4 separate regions of the Homo sapiens genome follow, and regions 1, 2 and 4 are each reported to be linked to region 3. The links are microRNA targets in miRTarBase. Many come from high-throughput screens and were not tested one by one. Region 3 holds a microRNA gene; each other region holds the end of a gene's coding sequence. Distances are between the middles of the regions.

What was found. Region 3 holds the annotated microRNA hsa-miR-4433a-3p (ACAGGAGUGGGGGUGGGACAU, at 1,192-1,212, shown strand). A microRNA usually pairs through its seed, bases 2 to 8, with sites in the 3' UTR of a target mRNA and lowers its output. Matches are read on the target gene's strand: a 7mer-m8 pairs with bases 2 to 8, a 7mer-A1 pairs with bases 2 to 7 and ends in A, and an 8mer does both.
Region 1: the mRNA of TCF23 is a reported target of hsa-miR-4433a-3p. Seed matches in the 3' UTR shown: 7mer-A1 at 418-424.
Region 2: miRTarBase lists UMPS as a target of hsa-miR-4433a-3p. Seed matches in the 3' UTR shown: 7mer-A1 at 2,569-2,575, 7mer-m8 at 2,077-2,083, 7mer-A1 at 1,760-1,766, 7mer-A1 at 1,165-1,171 and 7mer-m8 at 94-100.
Region 4: miRTarBase lists ZNF610 as a target of hsa-miR-4433a-3p. Seed matches in the 3' UTR shown: 7mer-A1 at 2,241-2,247 and 8mer at 2,137-2,144.

The regions. Positions count from the first base shown.
Region 1 is chr2:27,152,385-27,155,384 of GRCh38, reverse strand. It overlaps TCF23 (transcription factor 23), which reads right to left. Exons shown (of 3, transcript NM_175769.3): 3 at 1-2,697. The coding sequence ends at 2,518. Among named protein-coding and RNA genes, the nearest start is that of TCF23, 4.9 kb to the right of the region's middle. RefSeq lists an enhancer at 2,412-2,471.
Region 2 is chr3:124,743,599-124,746,713 of GRCh38, reverse strand. It overlaps UMPS (uridine monophosphate synthetase), which reads right to left. Exons shown (of 6, transcript NM_000373.4): 6 at 1-2,799. The coding sequence ends at 2,630. Among named protein-coding and RNA genes, the nearest start is that of MIR544B, 13 kb to the right of the region's middle.
Region 3 is chr2:64,339,618-64,342,732 of GRCh38, forward strand. It overlaps MIR4433A (microRNA 4433a), which reads left to right and starts at 1,142; the gene lies at 1,142-1,222. It overlaps MIR4433B (microRNA 4433b), which reads right to left and starts at 1,231; the gene lies at 1,130-1,231. It overlaps LOC105374768 (a long non-coding RNA gene), which reads right to left and starts at 2,092. Exons shown (of 3, transcript NR_189739.1): 1 at 1,918-2,092.
Region 4 is chr19:52,366,376-52,369,490 of GRCh38, reverse strand. It overlaps ZNF610 (zinc finger protein 610), which reads right to left. Exons shown (of 6, transcript NM_001161425.2): 6 at 1,713-3,115. The coding sequence ends at 2,724. It also overlaps a transcript of ZNF880 not described here. Among named protein-coding and RNA genes, the nearest start is that of ZNF880, 2.0 kb to the left of the region's middle.

The DNA of each region.
Region 1 (3,000 bases), 37 Mb from region 3:
CTCAAGGGCATTACTGTGCTTGTCAGGGAGGGAGGGCCCAGTCCATCCTCTGGTTATTCCCATCCATCCCCTAGGCCTTCCCTTGGCTCACCCTGCCCCCTGCCAGGCCCCTTTGCTTGCTGGCCTGACGGGGCTGGGTCTCTGTGGCTGGAGGAGATGGCCTCTGCCCCACCCCCCTCGACTGTCCTGGGCACAAAGGAGAACAGCTTTGCCTGGAAAGGGCCCAAGACACCCTGAGAAACTTGTAGCGATGGGACCTGCCTCCTGCAGCCCTCCACCTGCGTCATCCTTCCTGTGCCCTCCTTGTCTACACCAGGGCCATGCGGTCACCCCTGAGGGCTCTAATGTTACTAGGCAAAGGCCTGAGTCTGAGCAGGACAGGGTGGGGCAAGCTCCAACCCAAAGTCTACTCTATTATCAGGAGAAGCTCCATGCTATCCAGAGGACCCCGACACACACCCCAAGCCAATTTCCCTTCATCCCCAGGAAAGTGTGCCACCAACTGAGGAGGAAATGTATCTGCTTCTCTTCCTAGCACTCCCGTGAACTCAACCAGGAAGATACTGCTGTTTGGCTTTAAAAATAGTACATTCTAGCTGGACTTTTATGGTCTTGTGAAGAACACTGTGCTCATGCCCTCCCACACCTGGCCTCTGCCCCTGCCTGGCCCTGTCCAGCTGCCCACATCAGCTCTGCACAAGCTCTTCAGGGTCCCTCTGCAGAGACGTGGTTCAAGGCAGATTTACGAGTTCAGCCTTGGCCGAGGCCTTCTCCCCATGGCTCCCATCCACATTCCAGCTGTTCTCCCACATCCCAGGCAGCTCGGGGCTGGGATGTTCTGTGTCTCTTTTTCTACCTCTACCACAACTGGCTCAGTCGCACCCCCAGCCCTATTTCAGCTCTGCCCTGGCCAGCCCTGTGGAGGTACAGGGTCCTGTCATGCCAGAACCCAGACCCCAACCATTCCCAGCCTGCCCAGAGCTCACTTACATTCATGATAACAACAATGGTGTGTGTCTAAGGATAACCTTGTTGGGACTCTAGTTGGTCATGCCCGTCCCCTCCCACTCTGAAGGGCTGAAATTTAACCGAAAGGTAATTTGTTCCATCTGGACTTCAGGTGCCAGGTTTGAGGCTACATCCGATCTGGAAAGTTATTTTCAGTGTGTGTAGATTCTATGATTAGTCCTCAAGTTATTTCTTTAGGGCCAGAGATGAGTTTCACCGAAGCTATATCACATTTCTGGCACCCCATGGTAGGACTTAGAGAAAGCCCCCAAGGACGATCTCCATGAGGCGGAGCCGGCCCTAGGGAGCTAATAGACTATAGAAATAACTCCAGAGCCAGGGAAGCCTCGAACACAAATTTTACAAGGAGCCAATTGAGTGGTTGAGCAGTTGAAGGCAGGCCTATCTTGTTTTTGCTTGAGGGCAGGTTTCTAACATAATGGAAAGAGAAGACTGTAATGATCACCCCCTATATACCTGATCTTCTCTTAAGGTCCTTCAAGGATGTAATTGATTCTGTCAATATCCTTCATATTTAAGGCCATAAGTTGCTGCTTGGTTCAATTAAGGTAGAATTGCTTCTGGTTAAGATCTCAAACTAGGCATCTGGGACTATCTAAAAGTTTCTCTGGAAACTGGAATGTAAGCAATGCAAGATGTATGGCTTAACCTGTAGATATAACTCATGTCAAGAAAACAGTGGGGTTGGGCATGGTGGCTCATGCCTGTAATCCCAGCACTTTAGGAGGCTGAGGTGGGAGGATCACTTGAGGCCAGGGGTTCGAGGCCAGCCTGGGCAACATATCAAGACCCCCATCTCTACATAAAAAGAAGAAGAAACGAAAAGAAAAGAAAAGAAAAGAAAAGAGTGGAAGAGTGCAGGAGCCGAGAGGGAGAGAAAATGTAGTGGTGAGGGGCAGCTTCTGGAAAGGCCCATACTACAGAGGGAGGAATCCTGAATTCCTCACTATCTCTCTAACATCAGGTAAGCATCTCATGATGCAGTTAGAAAGCACATTTCCTTCTTCAGTTTCCCCTCTGGCTGTGTGACCCAGCCCAGATCTGTTTACACTTGGAGCTACCAGGAGCCTATCCGGCCACCTGGCTTTCCCATCAGCACCTGGGGCTGGTGCCATCCCAGGCCCCTCCCTCTGCACCTGCCTTTTTGCTATCTGCAGAGGGTTTGTAGAAACCTTAGGGGAAGAAAGCTAGGGTGGTTCCCTACCTCAACTTTGAGCCCAATTATACCTCTTTCTCTCCCACTTCCCAGTAGCTGTCACAGAAGAGCCATGGGGAAGTCCCCTCCTGGGGACCAAGGAGGAGGCTCTCCAACCTGTGCCCCTCTAGGTACTGTCCATCACAGAAGTGCTACTGCTTCTCTTGGTCTGCATGCTGGAACTTGGGAGCTGAGTCTGAGTCAAGTCTGATGGCTGAGAATCTGGGGGCTGGTAGAAAATCCAGGCCCATAAGCATGAGTCACAGTCTAGGAGAAAAGGGCGAGTGTGATAATTATTTGTCACCAAGAGCTGGTGAGAGTGGTGTGGTGGAAAGGAGAGCATCTGCCTCTCCAGGGACTTGGGACCCCACCTCTGCATCTCTTGTTCTTTGGCTGGGGGTGCTGGCTGTGGTGGAGTCAAGATCGGAGTACCCCAGGCCTCCAGCATAGAGACGAGATCGCATCGGCCACTTCTGCAAGACACAGATTGGGAAGTGAGAAATGCTGCTATTGCAGCCCTTCGTGGTCCAGGATCCTTGACACCCAAAACCCAGCCTTCTCCAGCATCCCTCCCTGACACCTTCCCCAGCCATCACTGCTCTGATCAGGGTCATCATCATGTACAGCCCCACACATTCTCCTGATCACCCAGAGCCTGGATGAGAGACACAGGAGGAGCCATCTGAGGAGGGAGAGGGCCCCAAGAAGAGCAGCGCTCTGTTGGGAGGGAGGTGGACAGAAGATCAGCTGGCCTGGGCAGAGCTGGCAACAGCCAG
Region 2 (3,115 bases), not on the chromosome of region 3:
GAGGCTGGGGGATGGCGTTCTCCACTCCATCAGTCTCACAGACATTCTGTGCACCCCATGGAGACATGGGGTCCCTATATTCCCCACTAAGACCAGGAGTTACAATGCCCAGAGATCATGTTCTGTAAATATTCCTTGACTGAGAAAGGGTTAAACTATCTAATGCCTCCAAAATACTTCAATGCTGAAGAACAGCGCTTGTATAGCCCAAGTTCTTCTCTGCCTGAATCAACTTGTCCTCTAAAGCTTTGATGCCAGACTGGGATTCTGCTTAGGTAAGAGGCCTGCAGTACTGGGCTGACTCTTCACAATAGAAATACAAATCAGAAACAGATCACTTGAGGCACCCATTAGAAATGCACACGCCCAGGCTGCTGGGCAAACCACAAATCTGCTAACGCAGAAACTCTGATGGTGTGGGGCACAAGGACCTACACTTTCAGTAAGTGGCAGGGGCTGGGTGATTATTTGAGCCTCCTCTCATTTCCCCTCAAATCACCTTAGCAGGGGTCCTGTGAAATAGGGTTCATCAACAGGAACAGTGCCTGCGTCCTGGAGATGGCAGGAGCCCACATTTCTAAAGGACAGGAGCATGTGACTCTTAGCAGGAGGCAGACCTCAAGGCTGTCTCACTGCAGAGGCAGAAATGTGAATAACCAGTGAAGTGGTTCTCAAAGTCCAGTCCCTGCGCAGGCAACCGCAGCATCACCTGGGACCTTTTTGGAAACGCAAATTCTCAAGCCCCATCCCAGAGCTACCCAGAGTCAGAAACGCTGCGGGTGGGGCTGGTACCTGTTTTGACAAGACTCCAGGTGACTCTGATACCTGCTAAAGTGGGAGAACCACTGACACATGGAAGTGACAGCCAGGGAGGTGGGCGCCTGAGACCTCAGCACATCACTCCAAAGGCCTCTCAACATATCACTCCAACACTGAAGACACCTAAGAGATTCCTGCAAGTTTTTGTCAGAAAATTCTTCTCCCCTTCATGACTTTTGGCTTCCCCAGAGTAGCCCTGAGGGCCAACTCCCTTCCTGCTCCTTCTGTGGCCACTTCTTCCTTGAGAGTTGGTCTCTCCCACAGACAGCATTTCCCTGGAGATGCAGCACTGGGGACATGAAGCCCAAATTGGACTTTAGAGCAGAAGCTCTTGAAGTAAAAACTTCAGGAGGGAATATAATAAAAACCTGAGTTAAAAATCCTAGGCTTGTAGTCCCAGCTACTCGGGAGGCTGAGGCAGGAGAACTGCTTGAACCAGAGAGGCAGAAGTTGCAGTGAGCCGAGATCGTGCCACTGAACTCCAGCCTGGGCGACAGTGAGATTCTGTCTCAAAAAAAAAAAAAAATCCTAGGCATTCCTCTGAGTCATTAAAGAACAGTGGGCCATCAGCTGACAAGGGTGGGGAAATGGCTGATCCTGTGCCACTTCCTGCAGGTGGGCCCCAAATGAGAAGGAATGTGAGTGTGCTGGTGCAATGAGCACCGGGACAGCCCTCACCCTGCCCCTGCTCAAACACCACCTTGAATGTGGGCTTTCTCTTTATTATTAATGAAGGCTTACCTCCCCTCTACTAATGACCGTTGGGACAATTATGTGGGATCCTTAAGCAAATACCCAAATGGAATCTTAGACCTCCTAATTGTGAAGTCAGTCACAGGAAGCTGTCACTTGTGTTACTACTGGTCCATAATTGCTGGCTAGGGGAAAAAATGAGCCCAAACCCCAACTCCGGTTGTTGAAATAACAGCCAGATACTAGCTCAGGAGCTGAGCTATAGTCACCTTCCCCTTCCCCACCTTCCCCTCTTTGGAGAGTGAGCAATGGCAGTTCTGGGAACCAGCCCATGTGGATACCTGGACTATCACTTTTAGGCCAGAGATGGAGGGGAATGGCTAACAATTAGGTATTATTTGGGCAACACATTAGACAGAGAATACAGGACACAAGAAAAGCTGTGCTGACTTTAGCCTCTTGGTGCCCTAGAATTTTTGTCTTACTGCAATTAGGCTGGGCACAGTGGCTCACACCTGTAATCCCAGCACTTTGAGAGACTGAGGCAGGAGGATCGCTTGAGCCCAGGAGTTGAGACCAGCCTGGGTAACATGGCAAGACCTCATCTCTACAAATAATAAAGAAATTTAGATGGACGTGGTGGTGCATGCCTATAGCACCAGCTAATCTGGAAGCTGAGGTGGGAGGATCACCTGGGAGGTCGAGGCTGCAATGAGCCGTGATCTCACCACTGCACTCCATCCTGGGCAACAGAGTGAGATCCTGTCTCGAAAAAAATTAAAAAATAAATAGAATAACAAAGCAGTCTAGTCCCATGGAGAGATAGGAAGGATCCTCAAATGTGGAAGACCCTAACCCAGACAGGACTGTGGCTGTCTAACAAACACCAGTCTCAAAAAAAGCAAGCTTAAGAATGAACTTATTATAGTATCAATGCGGTGATTACAAATTACTCAATATTTCCTAAAGACCATGAGAACTCCAGAACCCATTCTTACACAGGCCCTGTGGAAGAATCCAAGCAGGAATAATTGGATTATTTCCAGCCAGTGACTTTCAGGAGGACCACATATCTTCAATGTCTTCACATTGTATCTGAAAAATGTATCTGAAGCACTCAAACACCAAGTCTACTCAAATACGCTTCCCAAGCAGCTTTTCTGTACATCTCTGCTGCTTCCAGACGATCAGCTGCTGAGATTATGCCACGACCTACAATGATGATATCGGAACCTCGTTTGCCAATAACTTCTTGTGGGCTATTGTACTGTTGGCCAAGATTATCTCCTGCAAGAAACACAAAAATTGTTGTTTCACATAATACAAAAATCAGAAAACCTGTCACATGACTTCTCTGAAAAAGTATCTAACCAGCTTTAAATAAAAACATGCCCCTACTTTCGTTCCCCTTTTGTACAGCAACTGCGTAAAAACAGGAGCTGAAGAGACTCACTGGGTAGGCCAGAGACGTCAAATGGAGAAAGATGATCACCAACTCCTTTTCAATGGTAAAGTTTATTTTATTTATTTATTTATTTATTTATTTTTATTTATTTATTTTTTTGAGACGGAGTCTCGCTCTGTCACCCAGGCTGGAGTGCAG
Region 3 (3,115 bases):
CTTCTCCTGCCCTTTTCCTAAAATACTCATGACCACCAAACACTATTTATTCCAGTATATCTTGTGGAAGGGGGTGTTGCTGAGTATTAAGCAAAAAACTTTATTTTTGTATATTCAAACTTATGGAATAAGTTCAGGAAATACTGAGTTAAAAGGGTTAAAGTGTTGGTTTTTCAACTGCAGGACTTCTCAGACTCTTTGAGATGCTGATGTACACAAGGGGTATGGGCTGCATGTTTCTACATGCTGATTTGATATAGAACCCTAGATAGAGCATCTCGCAAGACCAGTGGTCCCTGGAACCCAGCTTAGAAAACACTGCCCCAAAGAAGTCTCCTGAGAAAAATGTATTGCTGTTGATCTTTCAGCCTTCGTCACTGCTATCCTTCCCCTAAAGGGCTTGCCTTCAGCCTCTCTACCCATCCTGGTTCCCCCAGTGCTTTGGAACCAGGACAGACACACTCTGCTCCTAATAAGCATTTCATAGTCAGCCCCAGCCCAGAGCTCTCCTTATCATTCATTCATTCATCAAATATTTTTTGAGCATTTACTTTCTTCCAGGAGCTGTGCTAAGAGATATAGTAGCAACCAAGGAACATTCCAGTAGGAAACAGACAGGTAAGTAGATGGGTTTAGTATAGTGTGAGAAGTACAATACAAACACACCCAAGGATAGATCCAGATTGAGTCTTGGACAGTCGGAAAGACTTCCAGGGGAAAAAAAATGGCATCTTTTCTTCATTTCCACACTTAGCAATTTTTCTATATTGGTTTGTCATTTATTCATTTAATCACCAATCATTTATTGTGGGCTGGGCACTGTGCAGAGATAGTAATCAGACTTGACTTGAGGACGATAAGAAATCACTGAAGGGATTTTAAGCAGAGAAAGGACATGATCTATTTACACTGGTAGATGTCACTTTGATTGTAGGAAAAGTGGACCGGCCAGGGCAAGGCTTGAGGCAGGAAGCCAGCTAGGAGACCACTGCATGAACCCACATAAAAATGAGGACCTGGGCTAGGGAAGTAGCAGGAAAAGTGGATTTTGACAGATATCTAGGACAGAGCCAACAGGACTTGGACAGCAATGGGATGTGGGGGAGTAAGAGGGAATAGTTTAGGATGATGTTCTTTCCCCCATCCTCCTTACGTCCCACCCCCCACTCCTGTTTCTGGTGAAATATTCAAACAGGAGTGGGGGTGGGACATAAGGAGGATAGGGAACACAGGATGAAGGGCAGGTTACAGGGGTCCACGTGCGAGGGGAAGATAATGTGTTCAGTTTTAGACATGCTGAGCTCATGATTCCAATTCCTTTGGACATTCCAGTGGAGATATCTGGCAGGCTGATTTTTCTCACGAGAGAAATCATGTCTGGAAATACAGATCTGAGAAGCAGCAGCAACATATGGGTGGCCACCAAAGCCGTGGACTCAGTCAGCACCATTAAGCCAGAGTGATGGGTGAGATGGGTGACAAGGGCCCCCCTTGCAGCAGGTGGGTGACAAAAGAAGAATCAGTGTTGCAGCATGGGAAGGACTGCCCAGAGAGAAAGGAAGTGAACCAGGAGAGGATCTAGAAAAAGGACACTGGGCAATGAGAGCTTGGAGCGGGCCTCTGCACCAGGGGAGGGGTGGCTTTGACTGGCAGATACACATGTCTAGTACACGTGGAGGGTATGAAAACTCCAGGGAAAGAGAGGGGCAGCAGGAGCTCCCTCTTTTTGTAAAACAGGCTTTCTCTTAGGCGTAGCCTTCTAACTGATCTGCCCCACTATCCTCAACCCACTCTCCACTTCATAGCCAGATAGGTCTTTTCAAAACACATCTCTGATCACATCACCGCCTCTCCCCCAGCTCTATTAAAAACCTTTGGATATTTCTATGGCTCTTAGCATGCAGACCAAACTCCTACCTGGCCTGGCCTCTACTTCCTTCTCCAGGTGCACCTTCTGCCAGACTCTCTTGCTCTCTCCCCTGCAGCCAGCTGGCTTCCATTCGGCCTCGCAGACTCGTTGCATGGGTGTTACATTGTTGCTGTCAGAGCCATGTCCACCCTTCCCATCCCGTGGTCCCCCGATCTGCTCTGTGTCACTGGGGGCTGTTCCAGGCTCCAGAGCCAACTGCCTTCCAGTAAAGTTCAGCCAATGGGGAGTGAGGGAGGGCAAAAGATATTGGAGGTGAAGGAAGGAGAAGCCAGAGTACTTCTCCTGCTTCTCTTTCTCAGGAGTCTCTTCTGTGGCTGCAGTTCCCACTACACAGCCATCTCTGTGTGATCCCTGCTACCCATCTTGGCAGGCCCTCTTTGTTCCAGCTTATCTTGTCTTAGGCTCCAGAAACTGTTTCTTTCCTTGTTCTCCAGCTTCCAGGGTGGTGCTATGGGTTGAATTGTGTCTCCCCTGCAAGTTCATGTGTTGAAGTTCTAACCCCCAGTACTTTAGAGTGTGACCTTATTTAGGGTTGTGGTCTTTATAGAGTAGCCGAATTAAAGTGAGGTCATTAGGGTGGACCCTAATCCAATATGAATGTTGTCCTTATAAAAAGGGGAAGTTTGGACAGAGATAGACACACACAGAGGGAAGACGATGTGAAGAGACATAGGTGAAAATGGTCATCTACAAGTCAAGGAAAGAGGCGTGGAACAGATCCTTCCCTCATAGGCCTCAAAAGGAACTACCCCTTCTGACACCTTGATTTTGGACTTCCAGCCTTCAGAACTCTGAGACAATAACTTTCTGTGTGAAGCCACCCAGTCTGTGGCACTTTGTTACTGCAGCCCTAGCAAACAAATACAGTAGTCCCAGCTTCCTGGAGTTGCTACTCTCAGGGTTCCCCTGGGAGCTCTTTCAACTCCTCTGACTCCCCGTATGAAATTCCCTCTATCAAATCACCTAGAGTGGGTTTTGCTTTCCTGGCTGGGTCCTGACTAATATGCCTGCCATGATCCTTTCTGCCACAGAGGACATAGTGCTTCCTCTGCCTGGTATTTTTCCCCCTCTCATCTTTACCTAATGAACTTTCCCTAGTAAACTCATCTAGGTCATAGGTAAATGTCACTTCCTCAAGAAGGCCTACCCCTGTATAGTCATTACCAGCTCTTATGGCTCCAAGCA
Region 4 (3,115 bases), not on the chromosome of region 3:
ATAAACACTAGTTTCCGGAATTTTAAAGTCCTTGAATTGTTTATGAAGGGGATGCAAATTAAAATATGAAATGCAAAACCCTGCCAGGGCGGAATGTGCAATTTCCTTTTTTTTTTTTTTTTTTTTTTGGAGACAGAGTTTCGTTCTTTTGCCCAGGCTGGAGTGAAGTGGCGCGATCTCGGCTCACTGCAACCTCCGCCGCCTGGGTTCAAGCGATTCTCCTGCCTCAGTCTCCCGAGTAGCTGGGATTACAGGCGCCCACCACCACACCGGGCTACTTTTTTGTACTTTTAATAGAGACAGGGTTTCTCCATGTTGGCCAGGCTGGTCTTGAACTCCTGACCTCGTGATCCGCCTGCCTTGGCCTCCCAAAATGTTGGGATTACAGGCGTGAGCCACCGCACCCGGCCAAGTTTTTTTTTTTTTTTCATATTTATATTAATCCTAGTGTATACCTGCCATTGTCTTATGGACATACTCAGGTCACAACTTTTTTTTTTTTTTTTTTTTTTTTTTTGAGATGGTCTCCCTCTGTCTTTCAGGCTGAAGTGCAGACAGCTCACTGACTGCAGCCTCGACCTCCTGGCATCAAGTGATCCTCCCATCTCAGCCTCCCAAGTAGCTGGGACTACAGGCACACGCCACAATGCCCAGTCCCATGTCACAAAATTTTGTCTCCAAACAGCACTCATTTATTTGTCCCCTAAAGTTTTCACCAGAGCAAAACAGGGAAGAAATGTATTAAACATAGAATTTGGAGGCAATGTAGGAAAAAAATGTAAAAATATATATACATACAAAAAATATAAAAATATACATGCTAGGTGTGAATTGTAACTAAGTTTCCAGTATGGGTAGTGGGTATCCCCGCCCCAGCCCTACCCTTTAGCAATCATGACACCCCAAGCCAGTCACCTATCCCAGTTCTCTGAAGCCACTTTTGGACCAGCTGGAAAAGTATACCCTGCTTTCCCCCACAGAGCCTCATTATATAATAAACACTCTCAAACCATATCAGTGTATGGGATCATCATTCTCAAGATCCAAGCCAAACCTTAGGGGGACTTCAAACAAGTTCCAGAAGAGTGGTCAAAAATTCAAATTACCAAAAGAGTTGTGAGGGTGACTATATGAAGTTTCTAGTTAATGTACCAAAACAAAATTCCCTTTCTGTGTGTGACTTAAAAAGAAGATGGGTGAACATTAATATTTTCAAATGATGTCACTGAACACTAGAAGTACAAAAAGAAATTGTGTTACAGTATTATTATTATTTTTTTTTTTTTGAGACGGAGCCTTGCTCTGTCACCAGGCTGGAGTGCAGTGGGGTGATCTCAGCTCACTGCAACCTCTGCCTCTTGGGTTCAAGCGATTCTCCTGCCTCAGCCTCCCAAGTAGCTGGGATTACAGGTGCACACCACCAGGCCCAGCTAATTTTTTTTTTTTGTATTTTTAGTAGAGACAAGGTTTCACCATGTTGACCAGGATGGCCTCAATCTCCTGACCTCGTGATCCACCCAATGCAGCCTCCCAAAGTGCTGAGATTACAGGCGTGAGCCACCAGGCCCGGCCATGTTACAGTATTTTTGCCCTCAACCCATACTTTATTTCCTAATATTTGTCATATTACTATATATTTTTGCTGCATGAAAATGAAGGTGCACACCATAGTTCTTATTTGGCACACAAGAAAGAGGCATGTAGAAACACAATACAGGGCATACTCTTTAACACTCACACACATTTGAGGGTGTACAAGGCTGAAATTGTACTATTAAAGTGATTTTGACTTTACCCACATAAACATCCTACACCAGAGTACAGAGAAACTAACTCAAGTACTAAGTGTAATTACTCAACATCATACTTACTTAAGTATATTGCACCCAGAAGCGTATGTTGTTTTATGTCTCACACACATACACACACACACACTTTTCTGGCTGCTTCAACCTTAAAATCATAATGGGTTATTATTCTCTACTATAAAGTATCCTCCTGAGGTAAGATTAAACAACGCTGGTAGAAAGGATGTAATTCATTCACACTAAGAAAAATTTAAACTAGGCCGGGCGCTGTGGCTCACACCTATAATCCCAGCACTTTGGGAGGCCAAGGCCAGTGGATCACTTGAGGTCAGGAGTTTGAAACCGGCCTGGCCAACGGAGGGAAACCCCGTCTCGACTAAAAATACAAAAATTAGCCGGGCAGTAGTGGCACATGCCTGTAATCCCAGCTACTCAGGAGGCTGAGGCAGGAGAATTGCTTGAATCCGGGAGACGGAGGTTGCAGTGAGCCAAGATCATGCCACTGCACTCCAGCCTGGGTAATACAGCGAGACTTCGTCTCAAAAAAAAAAGAAAAAACTAAAAAAAAACTTTAAACTTTATTACTTAAAACATGAGAAGTATGTACATTCTAAATCAAAGAGTTACAAATTACGGTGCCAGCAGTTAAATGTGAATCCTACTCAAGAATATGCTATACTGGTAGTTTTCATTAAATGCTCTATTCTGATATAACTGTTCTCTCTTTATAGATTATTTATATATGTTATTAACTTTACATTTGTAGGGTTTCCTTTCAGTGTGGATCAAGAGATGAGTGATGAGGCTTCAATGCAAACTAAATTCTTTGCCACATTTATGATATTTGTAAGGTTTTTCTCCTGAGTCCTCCAATGTTGTGCTAGGTGTGAATTCTAACTAAAGATTTTGCCACATTCATTCCATCTGTAAGGTACGCAGTGAATTCTCTCCAGCATGAATTTTCCGATGTCGTGAAAGGTGTGGATTTTGATTGAAGACCTTGCCACATGCATTACACTTGTAAGGTCTCTCTCCAGTATGAATTCTCTGATGGTTGGTTAGGTATAATTTGCGCCCAAAGACTTTGTCACATTCATTACATTTGTAAGGTTTCTCTCCAGTATGGATTAGAAGATGGGCCATAAGGCCCGGACGCTTGTGAAATGCTCTTCCACATTCGTTACATTTGTAGGGCTTCTCTGTACTATGAATTATTTGATGCCGTGCAAGGTATGAAAGCAGACTAAAGACCTTGCCACATTCATTACATTTGTAAGGTTTTTCCGCCGTGTGACTTCTCTGATGAT